3 linked regions of the Homo sapiens genome follow. The protein of the gene in region 2 interacts with the protein of the main gene of each other region in a pairwise test. Each region holds a gene or a part of one and is shown on either strand. Other genes may lie near its edges.

The links.
Region 1: the proteins of TRIM2 (region 2) and UBE2U interact in a two-hybrid assay, tested with the Homo sapiens proteins (one large-scale study listed by BioGRID and IntAct).
Region 3: the proteins of TRIM2 (region 2) and MNAT1 interact in a two-hybrid assay, tested with the Homo sapiens proteins (one large-scale study listed by BioGRID and IntAct).

The regions. Positions count from the first base shown.
Region 1 is NC_000001.11:64,213,594-64,217,253, reverse strand, and holds part of UBE2U (ubiquitin-conjugating enzyme E2 U), read right to left. Parts: intron 2,440-3,660; coding exon 2,322-2,439; intron 1,818-2,321; exon of another isoform or gene 1,729-1,817; intron 1-1,728. UniProt on the Homo sapiens protein: Catalyzes the covalent attachment of ubiquitin to other proteins.
Region 2 is NC_000004.12:153,336,491-153,339,838, reverse strand, and holds the end of TRIM2 (tripartite motif-containing protein 2), read right to left. Parts: 3' UTR 522-3,348; downstream 1-521. UniProt on the Homo sapiens protein: UBE2D1-dependent E3 ubiquitin-protein ligase that mediates the ubiquitination of NEFL and of phosphorylated BCL2L11. Plays a neuroprotective function. May play a role in neuronal rapid ischemic tolerance.
Region 3 is NC_000014.9:60,965,221-60,968,880, forward strand, and holds part of MNAT1 (CDK-activating kinase assembly factor MAT1), read left to right. Parts: intron 1-3,008; coding exon 3,009-3,129; 3' UTR 3,130-3,338; coding exon of another isoform or gene 3,339-3,366; 3' UTR 3,367-3,660.

The sequences.
Region 1 (3,660 bases), on a different chromosome or scaffold from region 2:
TTTGATAACATCTCTGAAAAATGGTCATTTAGCTCTATCAAATAAACACTAGATACAAAGAATACCTTTAGTAATAGAGAGTTTACTAACTGCCAGCCTGGCCTTGTCCATTCTTTTAAGCAACTTGAATTATTTCAAACAATTCTTCCTCATGTTTGGCCAACTGGGACCTGGATGGACTTTACCATTAAGAATGGCACAACTATAGAGTCATTTGCTTTTAGGAAAGATCAGCTGGGCACCCAACTGGCTAGATAATCGTTTGTTCAAACTGGTACACTGCAAGTGAAAGGAGGTACTGGGAATAATTATACCAGGACTTTCCCAGGCAGTCTGGGGTATGTGAGTCCTCTAAGAAAGGAAAAGGGGCCAGGCCACAAGGAAAGGAGGCTGTCAGGAAATGGGAAGGTCATCAGACCTCCACACTGGGTTTGAGCTTAGAGCTTGGTCTTCTTGTCAATACACTGAGGCAAAGACCTAGCTATTCAGGGTAGGCAAACATAACAAATGTTGGGGAAAAGTTTGGGTAATGAGCGACATTTACATGTCTGCATATCACATACCAGGCTTAGACTTAGGACAATAAAATTAATTCCAGACAACTGATCACGGAGTAAAGTCCCTGATACATTTAAGGTATGTACTGACACGAGGCAGGGCCAAGCCTGCGTATGTGAACTTCAGTTCTGCTACAACCCAGCAGGCCCGGGAAAGTATGACTGACGTGTAACTTCAGTGTTTGTCCTATGTTAGTTTTCTGAAGCAACCCAGAAGAAATCTTTTTCCATAGGAAATCCCTTCGAATATTTGAAAACAGCTTTTACAACTGCCCTTTATCTTTTCTTCTGTTGGCTAAATATATACAGTTTCTTCAGCCTTTAGAAATGTGAGGTTCCAAGTGGAGCCTACTGGTATTCCAGATGAAAGCCCACCAAGCCAGAGAAGGGTAAAATGAGTATATAACACATACTTAGAAGAAGGGAATTTTCTATTACTGCTTCACCTTAAGCTTGTGATCAAATAGCTCCCCCAAGAACTTTGTCGTAGAATAAAGTTCTATGGTACTGGAAAAGATGCTTGATCAACACCATTTGATTTGTATCAGACCCAAAAACCCTGTGGAGGAGGAGCAATTGAACTTGGTCACAATTATACAGACCTAGCTAATGGACTGGGAGTCCTGGAAGGGAAACAGAAAAAGAAGCAATGTAAATCTGAGAGAAAAAGTACTATAAGAAATCAAGGCCTGTTGATTGGGAAGGTAATGATACCAGCTACTATGCAAGGTTGCTGTGTGCTACCAGAAGAAGGTGGGGCAGGATATAAAGGAAATAACTATGTCAGTAGGAGCCCAGCTCTCAGCTGTGGGAAACCCTTCTGTGCACAAGAAGCCAGAAGCAGTGCTCTACTACCTGGAGAGAAAGAGAGAGAGAGCGCACAGGGGCAATGGAGGCAATGGAGTTAGGAGTCATAACGAGGCTGCTGGCAGGATACCAAGGGTATCAGGAAAACACTGCTCAGTGGAGCAGAAAGACTGAAGAGCTTCAGGCTCTATTTCCACATGGATTCTTAGAAGGAATTCCTGGGGAGGGAACTCTCCGGAAAAAAATCATTGACATCTTGCTAATCAAGAAGAAAAGTGGTACAAATCAGTAAGATCTGGAGTACTGCAGGTGAAGTCTGGGAAATGTCCATTACAGATTGAAGAGTCAAAATTAGATGTCATACCTTTATGATGGGTGGACTAGTTTCATTTGGCACCATCCATGCATATGACCATAATATTTAAAGATACGGAGCTTGAGATCTTTGATGATCTTTAAAAAAGGATCACACTGATTGGTTTCACAAAGAGTTACAGTAGGAGAGATCTTAATACCATTCATTACTGAAAATGGATACAGAAAATATTTCAAATATTCCCTTATATAACAGTTATTTCCTAGATCACTATGCTATAAATGTTTAAAGTATAATTGATAATTGCCAAATAACAAAAAGTAGGTACTTCTTTTTTTTTTTGAGACAGAGTTTCACTCTCGTTGCCCGGGCTAGAGTGCAATGGCATGATCTCGGCTCACCGCAACTTCTGCCTCCCAGGTTCAAGTGATTCTCCTGCCTCAGGCTCCCGAGTAGGTGGGATTACTGGCATGTGCCACTACGCCCAGCTAATTCTGTATTTTAGTAGAGACAGGGTTTCTCCATGTTGGTCAGGCTGGTCTCGAACTCCGGACCTCAGATGATCCACCCACCTGAGCCTCCCAAAGTGTTGGGATTACAGGCGTGAGCCACTGCACCTAACAAAAGTAGATACTTCTTACTTTGTAATGGCCTGTTGAAAAGTCTTAGAATTGTTCTGTACAGAGATTCATCTTTAACCAGTATTCTGGCTGCTTCCAAATTCACTGGATTCTCTAGCACTGGATTAGAAAGCATAACCTATAGGAAAACACAGACAACATATAATTTCAGAAGTAAACTTTTTTTAGAGCAAAACGACAAACCAATATATACAACTTTCAATAAGCATGTATTAAATGCTTACTATGTATGGATCTGGAAATAGATTAAAAAATAACATGAGACATAGTCTGTACTCTCAAGAAACCTAACCTTAGGCTCATGAATGTACGGTATAAAACTGTGATAGATCAAAAAGCAAGTTACAAGTTCCTTTCTGTAACTTGTTCCTTCCTAGCATATACATTTACATTGAATTTAAATTAAGATTATAAAAATTTTAGTTGATGGTGGTTAGTGTATTTAAAATTCAAAATATTTTAACCAACATTTCAAGTACACTTCCCTTGAATAACAGTGTGATAATTGAAAATGTATCTAATTTGTTATCAAGAAAGAAGTAGTTAGTCATTATGGTCTCAACTTGTATTGCCCATCACTGTAGGCACAGTCACAGGTGGTTATTTACATTTAAAATAATTAAAATTAAATAAAATTAAAAATTCAGCTCCCTAGTCACAGTGGTAACATTTCAAGTGCTCAGTAGCCACATATGACTAGTAGGTACTGTATTGAACGGTGAGATATATTGGACATTTCCATCAATGCAGAAAGTGCTACTGCGCAGCACTGACCTTCAAAGGAATACTGAATAGCTATTAAAATATTGATTATAACCATATGGAAGTTACTTGAGAGACAATGTTAAGTGAAAAAGAAACAGGCTGTATAGTTTACATACTCACGTGCCACATAACAATGTTTCACTCAACAACAGACGGCATATATCATGGTGGTCCCATAAGATAATAATACCAAATTTTTACTGTACTTTTTCTATATTTAGATACACAAATATTTACCATTGTGTTACAATGGCCTATAGTGTTTAGTACAGTAACATGTTGTATAGGTTTGTAGCCTAGGAGCAACAGGCTATAACATAGCCTTCGTATGTATTAAGCTATACCATCTTGGTTTGTGTAAGTACGCTCCATGATTTTCAAACAACGATGAAATGTGTAACAACTCATTTCTCAGAATGTATCCTTGTTGCTAAGCACATGGCAATATACATACCATAATAGCAATAATGTAAAAATTCAGGTTCATTCATTCATTCATTTTATTTAATATCTACCAAATGTCAGCATTGTCTTTGGTATGCTCCAGGAAATCAAGGATGAATTAGACCTGTTT
Region 2 (3,348 bases):
TCCTGGGCAAAGTAGTGACCGCATCTCTTAGAAAAAATTTAAAAAATTAGCCAGGCGTGTTGGTGAGTGACTATAGTCCCAGCTACTTGGGAGGCTGAGGTGGAAGGACTGCTTGAGCCAGGGAGGTCGAGGCTGCAGGAAGCCATGATCACACCACTGCACTCTAGCCTGGACAACAGAGCCAGAGCCAGAGCCAGACCCTGTCTCAAAAAAAAAAAAAAAAGGTTGGTAAGGTTGTTCTACTTCTATAACTTTCTAAATGTACATGTTCTACGTATGTATCAGGATTTTCCAAATTCCTACTTAAGATACATCCTAAATACTAATGGATTATTAATGTCATAGCCAACAAAAATTTTCTTGAGCTTTTCCTCACTAGTATAAATAGTCTGGTTGCAGTATTGCTATCTTCCACAGATTCCAGGATGTTCCTCAATTTCCCTTCAGGCAGAGAATATATTAAATAAATATTCACTCTGCAAATGGAGAAATATTAAATAAATAAATATTCACTCTGCAAATGGAGAAAACAAGCTTTATTATAATGATTTGAGATTTTGTGCATGGTAAAGAGATACACATGAATCCTGTTTCTCCTATGTTTCAAGACAGAATTAATTGAAAGTTTCATTGTAGACTAAAGCATCCAAAATACTGTGGTACGTATGTAGCTACGAACATACAAACACTTTGATGCACAGCGTTCATTCTTTTCTTTAAATAGGCAGTCAACATTTTGATTCATAAAAGAACAAATGACGAGAATATATCAGTATCAATGTCAGAGAGTGCAAGACTTAGTGTTCTATACATAAAACATATGAAACAGACCTATAAAGATGGAATGTACAAAATCTAAAAAGAAAACAAAGCAAAAAAAAAAAACCCCTTCATATTCATACATAGGCTTGAAAGTCTATAGAATTGAGAACGATATAAAGAATTCTATTACAAGAATACACTCCATTGATGACAGAACATTCCCATGTCATAAAGCAAAAGCATTGAGTTTAAGGCTGTGTTGCTTTCAAAAGTTAATGGAAGTGCTGTACATTCATTGGAACAACATAGCCAATTTATTAATCTATTCTAGAATATTAATAGCTTTCATACATTCTCCACAAACAGACCAATCACTGCCACACAATTCATCTTTAGAAAGTTTTTAAGCATCATGATTTGTAGCTTACTGTCATTGAAAACAAAACAAATAATTCTTTATTTATACCAAACAAATCTTTGATGGGCACTTAGTTTCCTTTATGGCAATACTAGATTTCTAGTTATCAAAAATATTAAAGTAATTATAAAGTTTAAAACCCTGCAACATTTACAGAAACCAACAGTATTACCACTTTCACTTTTAAGCTAAATTAGATAATGTTTGCATGAAATAGCTTTCATTTTTTCCTACCTGGAGATGTCTTGTTTTTAAATTATTAAATTGTCAAACTAAAAATACTCCTCCCTTTTCAGAAGCTAGTGAATAGAGAGGGTACTATAGAGTCTACAAAAAGATTTTTCCCATTTGAAGTAATCTGCAGATTACCTAATGTTTATTTACTACTTCCTCCAATTAACTAAGTAGGTATTACCAAAGCATTTCTGTTAACCCGTCAGTGCTAAGGATTCACAGATACTTGCTAGTGTACTGCTATTCCAGTTAACTCCATGTTAGGACATACCCTGTATATTTAGTAGTGGAAGCAAGTGTGTTCTAGCTGCATGGATCTGGAGTATTTATTTGCTTCAAATCTAGTCACAGTAAATTAAAATAAGGAAACTTAGGGACTTGTTTAGTTCTGGAGACTAAAGTTTGATCAAAATACTAAGTACCATTAAAAAAAATGGCAAACAGTCATAAAGGACTTGTAGTCATGTATTTCTGGATGGTCAAGTGACTCTCTGCCTCCCCATGTCCAGCAAGGGGGGCTGGGGGGTCTGTACTGGGAGGAAATGCGTCGTCACTGACCTTGAAATCCCAACCGGCAATATTTTGCCTTACGTGCCCAGGGGAAATTTGAATGAGTAATTTTTCAGTGCTACTTATCATGAATGTATGACAGGTTCTATACACTTGACAAAGAGAAATCAAACAATAATGGTAGCCCAGAAAAAAGCCACTTATTTTAATATCCTTCTCAGTTTACCAGAAACCATTTTCCATAGAATGTGACAAAATTTCATTTAAATTTTGTCTACTTGTATCATATCAGCAGCACTTTCCCCCAAAAATATGCTTACCAAGAAATACAGTAAATGCACATATGTATCCAAGTGTGAAATGTTATCTATACTTTAACATATATAATCACATATTTTTTGGAAAAAATATAGTGTTTCCTGGAGTGCTCATAGCATGTGTTTTAGCAACACATAGTGGAGCAGGTCTGAATCAAACTATTCTTTCATTCCAGTTTGTGCCAATATTGACATGTAAAAAAAATTAGCTTTGTATTCAGTCTACTATTGAGATATCTAGCCTGATAGGATATGATATGATGGCTGGTTAGATTGTAAGTTAATTTCTAAGTTCACAAATATAATTGAAATGTTGTGCAAAAAAACTCTTTAAATCAACTAGTTTTAAGATCAACAGCCTGGGACAGAAAGAATCTAAATAAAAAGCCATTTTTACTTGTGAAAATAAACTAAAATTAATGTAACCAATTTGAAAAGTTTCTTTTAAACAATCTAGACAAGAGTCTAGCCTGTCTTTTGTGCAGAACGTTAGTACGTGGCAAAATGAAATTCCCACCCCAGAATGTCAGCTCTGAGGGGGCAGCGATTTTTTACCTGTTTTGTCCATCACTGTATTTCCAGTGCCTAAAAGAGTACTTGGTACCTAGTAGGTACTCAGTAAATATGAATGTTTAAATTCAAAGATGTATCTCACTGATGTTAGGAAACAGTGTCTTCATTTAACATTCTAAAAAGTTATTGAATTTTATAGCTTTATCACGGACAGGCTCAAGTATTTTTTAAAACTCTACCTAACTAAAAAAATATTAAACCTAAATGTAAATCTTCCTGGAAAAACCTTTTTTCAGAGGTTGATTTGGGCATAATAAATTTAACAGACAATTTGAAGTAGCTAGATTTCCCTTCTAAATTTTAAGAAGTCCTATATAGAGAATGACTGAATTATAAATTAATAAGCAATAAACATCACATTCATATAATTATACATAGGGGAAATGTTTTCTTATAGTACAGTTCTAAGGTGCTTTCAGTGAAGAAGACCCCAAAGTCACTATCAAAAATGTCAAACATGACATCCTATTTGGTAGAACTGAGTAGAAAATTAAACAGTGGAAATAGACCACAGCTTATTTTACAGTACCAATG
Region 3 (3,660 bases), on a different chromosome or scaffold from region 2:
TTAGCATTAATAAGTCAAATTTAAAAATTTGCTCATTACTCTGGATTATGACTATGTTCAAGAAATACTATTTTCAAGCACTAATCATTTAGATAAAACTTTTTTTACACATTTATGGCATCAAGGAGTATGACTGTTTATAACATTTTACCTATAAAGCTGAACTGTTTTATATACTCTTTATGGAAACATGGCCATAAATTAAAAGATGCAACTGTTTTGAATATTTTACTGGTGGTCCTCTGTTTTCCTGCCAGCAGTGCAGCTGTTTCAGGTTTCTCAGGATAACATATAAAAAGCTGTATGCACACTGCAAGTTTATGCTCAAATTGCCAAGCCAGATATGGTATGACTCAACTTTCCCAGAAGCAAGCTGTACCAAAATGTGATGAATCAAAACAGTTAGTTGCACAGTGGTTTGTATTACAGCTATGAAAACCAATTCTCATTTATGATGTTTGGCTTTTCAAGGTTGACAAACATTCTACTGTGGTGCTTGAATTTTACCATAAGTGAACATCTATTGAAGCTAAGACTATGCTTTTCTTTTGAGGATCTGAGGAAAGGAAAGGGTGATACATTATCATCTGGTGTGCGGATAAAAATTAGCTGGAAACTTGTATCAGGAATGGAACATTTCATTTCCAAGTTACCTATAAAAATATTACTCACTTATTATTTGTATGATAGTTATTGAATTCCCTGTGAAGCCAGGTTAATTTTTAGACCTTTCTGAGGTAACTTAACATTTACTTCATTTCTCATGCATCAGAATCTTAACAGTTGATACTTTATTGTGTCTTGGAAAGTAATAAGCAGATAACTTTATGGCCATGGGGTAGGTGTGGTGAATCCCTATTTCAATCCTATGCGACCTAAGGTTCTATCAAGAGTTTAACAACGACTATTTTTCTTTTTTTTTTTTAAACAGGGTCTCACTCTGTTGCCCAGGCTGGAGTGCAGTGGTGCGATCTCCGCTCACTGCAACCTCTGCCTCATGGACTGAAGTGATTCTCTTGCCTCCCAAGTAGCTGGATTACAGGCACCTGCCACTGTGCCTGGCTACTTTTTCTATTTTTAGTAGAGACGGGGTTTCACCATGTTGGCCAGGCTGGTCTGAAACTCCTGTCCTCAGGTGATCCACCTGCCTCGGCTTCCCAGAGTGCTGGGCTCACAGGTGTGCGCCACCACACCCAGACAACAATGACTAATTAATAATAGTAGTCTCTAAAGTGGGATGTGTCCCATGAGGATATGTAAGATACAGTATATGGAGAAAATATTAAAACATTCATTCATTAATTTATTTAGAGATGGAGTCTCGCTGTGTCACCCAGGCTGGAGTGCAGTGGCGAAATCTCGGCTCACTGCAACCTCCACCTCCTGGGTTCAAGTGATTCTCCTGCCTCATCCTCCTGGGTAGCTGGGATTACAGGCATGTGCCACCACGCCCAGCCAAGTTTTTGTATTTTTAGTAGAGATGGGGTTTTGCCATATTGGCCAGGCTGGTCTTGAACTTCTGACTTCAGATGATCCGCCCACCTTGGCCTTCCAAAGTGCTGGGTTACAGGTGTGAGCCACTGTACCCAGCCAGAACTTTTATTTAAATATTTTTATTTCATCCTTTTTCTATTTATATTTTTATATTACACTGACTATATTAGTATCTTATGTATATAATTATATATAGTAACATATAGTACATTAGTATTCTACATAAAACATATCTGAGATATGTTTTATGGCTATAAAATACTATCAAAAATGTTTTTGTTTTTGTTCAATAAATATTCTCTTCTTCCTTCCGCTTTCCCCTTTCGCCCTTGGCAGAGAAGCAAATAATTGAGTTAAAACCTTGATTTGTGGCAATGTGAATAAATTATAGCTAATTCCAGGAACTTAGCTGCATCCTACCTTGACCCATTTTTTCTACTGGACTCTTATATTGCTCTATATGTTTTAGCTACACAGGTTTATTAAACATGGATACAGATGAAAAACAGACTTGTTATGTTAGAAGTTATAAGTTGCTCATGCATTAAGATTTTGACACACAGGAAGTTTGAATGAATGAGTGAAAAAGGTTCCAAGTTATTAAAATGTTCTGGTACCTGATTTATTCATTTGCCATACCAGTAATTCTAAGGTGGGTGAAGCTCCTTTACTTCCTGAAGAAACAAGTTAGTTTCTTAAACTAAGCATTAAAAGAAAGCTGGAATTATTTGTTTCCAGAAGTGTTAGTAGTCATGCTAAGTTGCCCTTCTTTGGCTAGATTGTCCAATGTTTTTTAGGCCTGTTTTGTCTATTTTTGTCAAGATATAAATGTTTAATTGCTTTAAAAAAACTGTGTGGTTGCAGAAAAAAATTGTACTGTTATATTGTTGAGATCAATGAGACTTTTCTGTATTTACTTTTTCAGACATTATTTTGAACTCAGGCTCAGTCTCAGAGATTTCTTCAACATGTAATTTTCTAATGTTTCCTTTCCTGCAAGGAATGAGACAATATATTCTTGGAATATTAAAGTACTTTTGAAGTAACTCATACGTTTTCTCCCCTCTTCCATTTGTTTAGCTATTGAGGGTTTGCTTTAAAACAAATTTATGTAGAAATATCAGTACTATAATAGTATTGTGATACTGTGTATTTCTTAAGCATATGCCAGGAAGGAGAGCATTAGTTAGGTGTCCAAAAAACAGCCAACAAAACAAATCAGCTCTGAAAATCGTGAAGCAGTGAATATTTTAGAATTATTTTTGAAACCTCTTTCAGAACTGTTTTTAGACCCCGTGGTAATTTGCTATGTAATTTAATACTAGTTTAGGCACTCCATGTACAGTTGGTATGTTTCCTTTTGAAAGATAATAATCTATTTATAATAAAAGTCTGAATATTTCAATCTCGGAATTCCTCTTTAAAACTTGAATCAGTTTTACTATTGCTTTTTAAAATGTTACCTATTTATATTTGCTTTGTATATCAATGCTACACTTCTTGTTTTGTTTTAGGTATTTAAACCATGTCAGAGCTGCCTCACCACAGGACCTTGCTGGAGGCTATACTTCTTCTCTTGCTTGTCACAGAGCACTACAGGATGCATTCAGTGGGCTTTTCTGGCAGCCCAGTTAACCATTTATAAGATTTGGACCTTGGAGCTGAACCAGGGAGCTAGCAAAAGTAAAGCAGACTTATAAAATTATAGCTATGTGCAGCTGCACAACACAGTCCTTCCACTAGCAGCTGTGTTAAAGTATTTATAAGGAGAAAATTTCAGAACTAAGTTGAGTAATATAGGGGATATATATTTGTGAAAAATAATTTTTACTTATATTTTTCAGAGGATTTGACACGATAAGCCTCATCTGATGGAAGAGAGGAATAAATAATTCACCTATATGTGTTTGAGGTTGTGACAGACTTATAAAATCTTTTTAAAAAATAAAGCTATAATTTATATTAAGTTCTGTGGTTTTTCTCTTATTACAGTGTTTTACTTGAACACATTTTAAATACCATTTTGATTACAACATTTACTGTTAATATCCAAGTCTATTATTTCTTCTCATAAAATGTTCCCCTTTTTCCTAATGTCTTGTTAATACTAGTCCAGACAAGTGGATATATTTCCTTTGACCAAGTTATGGCAAGAAAAACCTGACC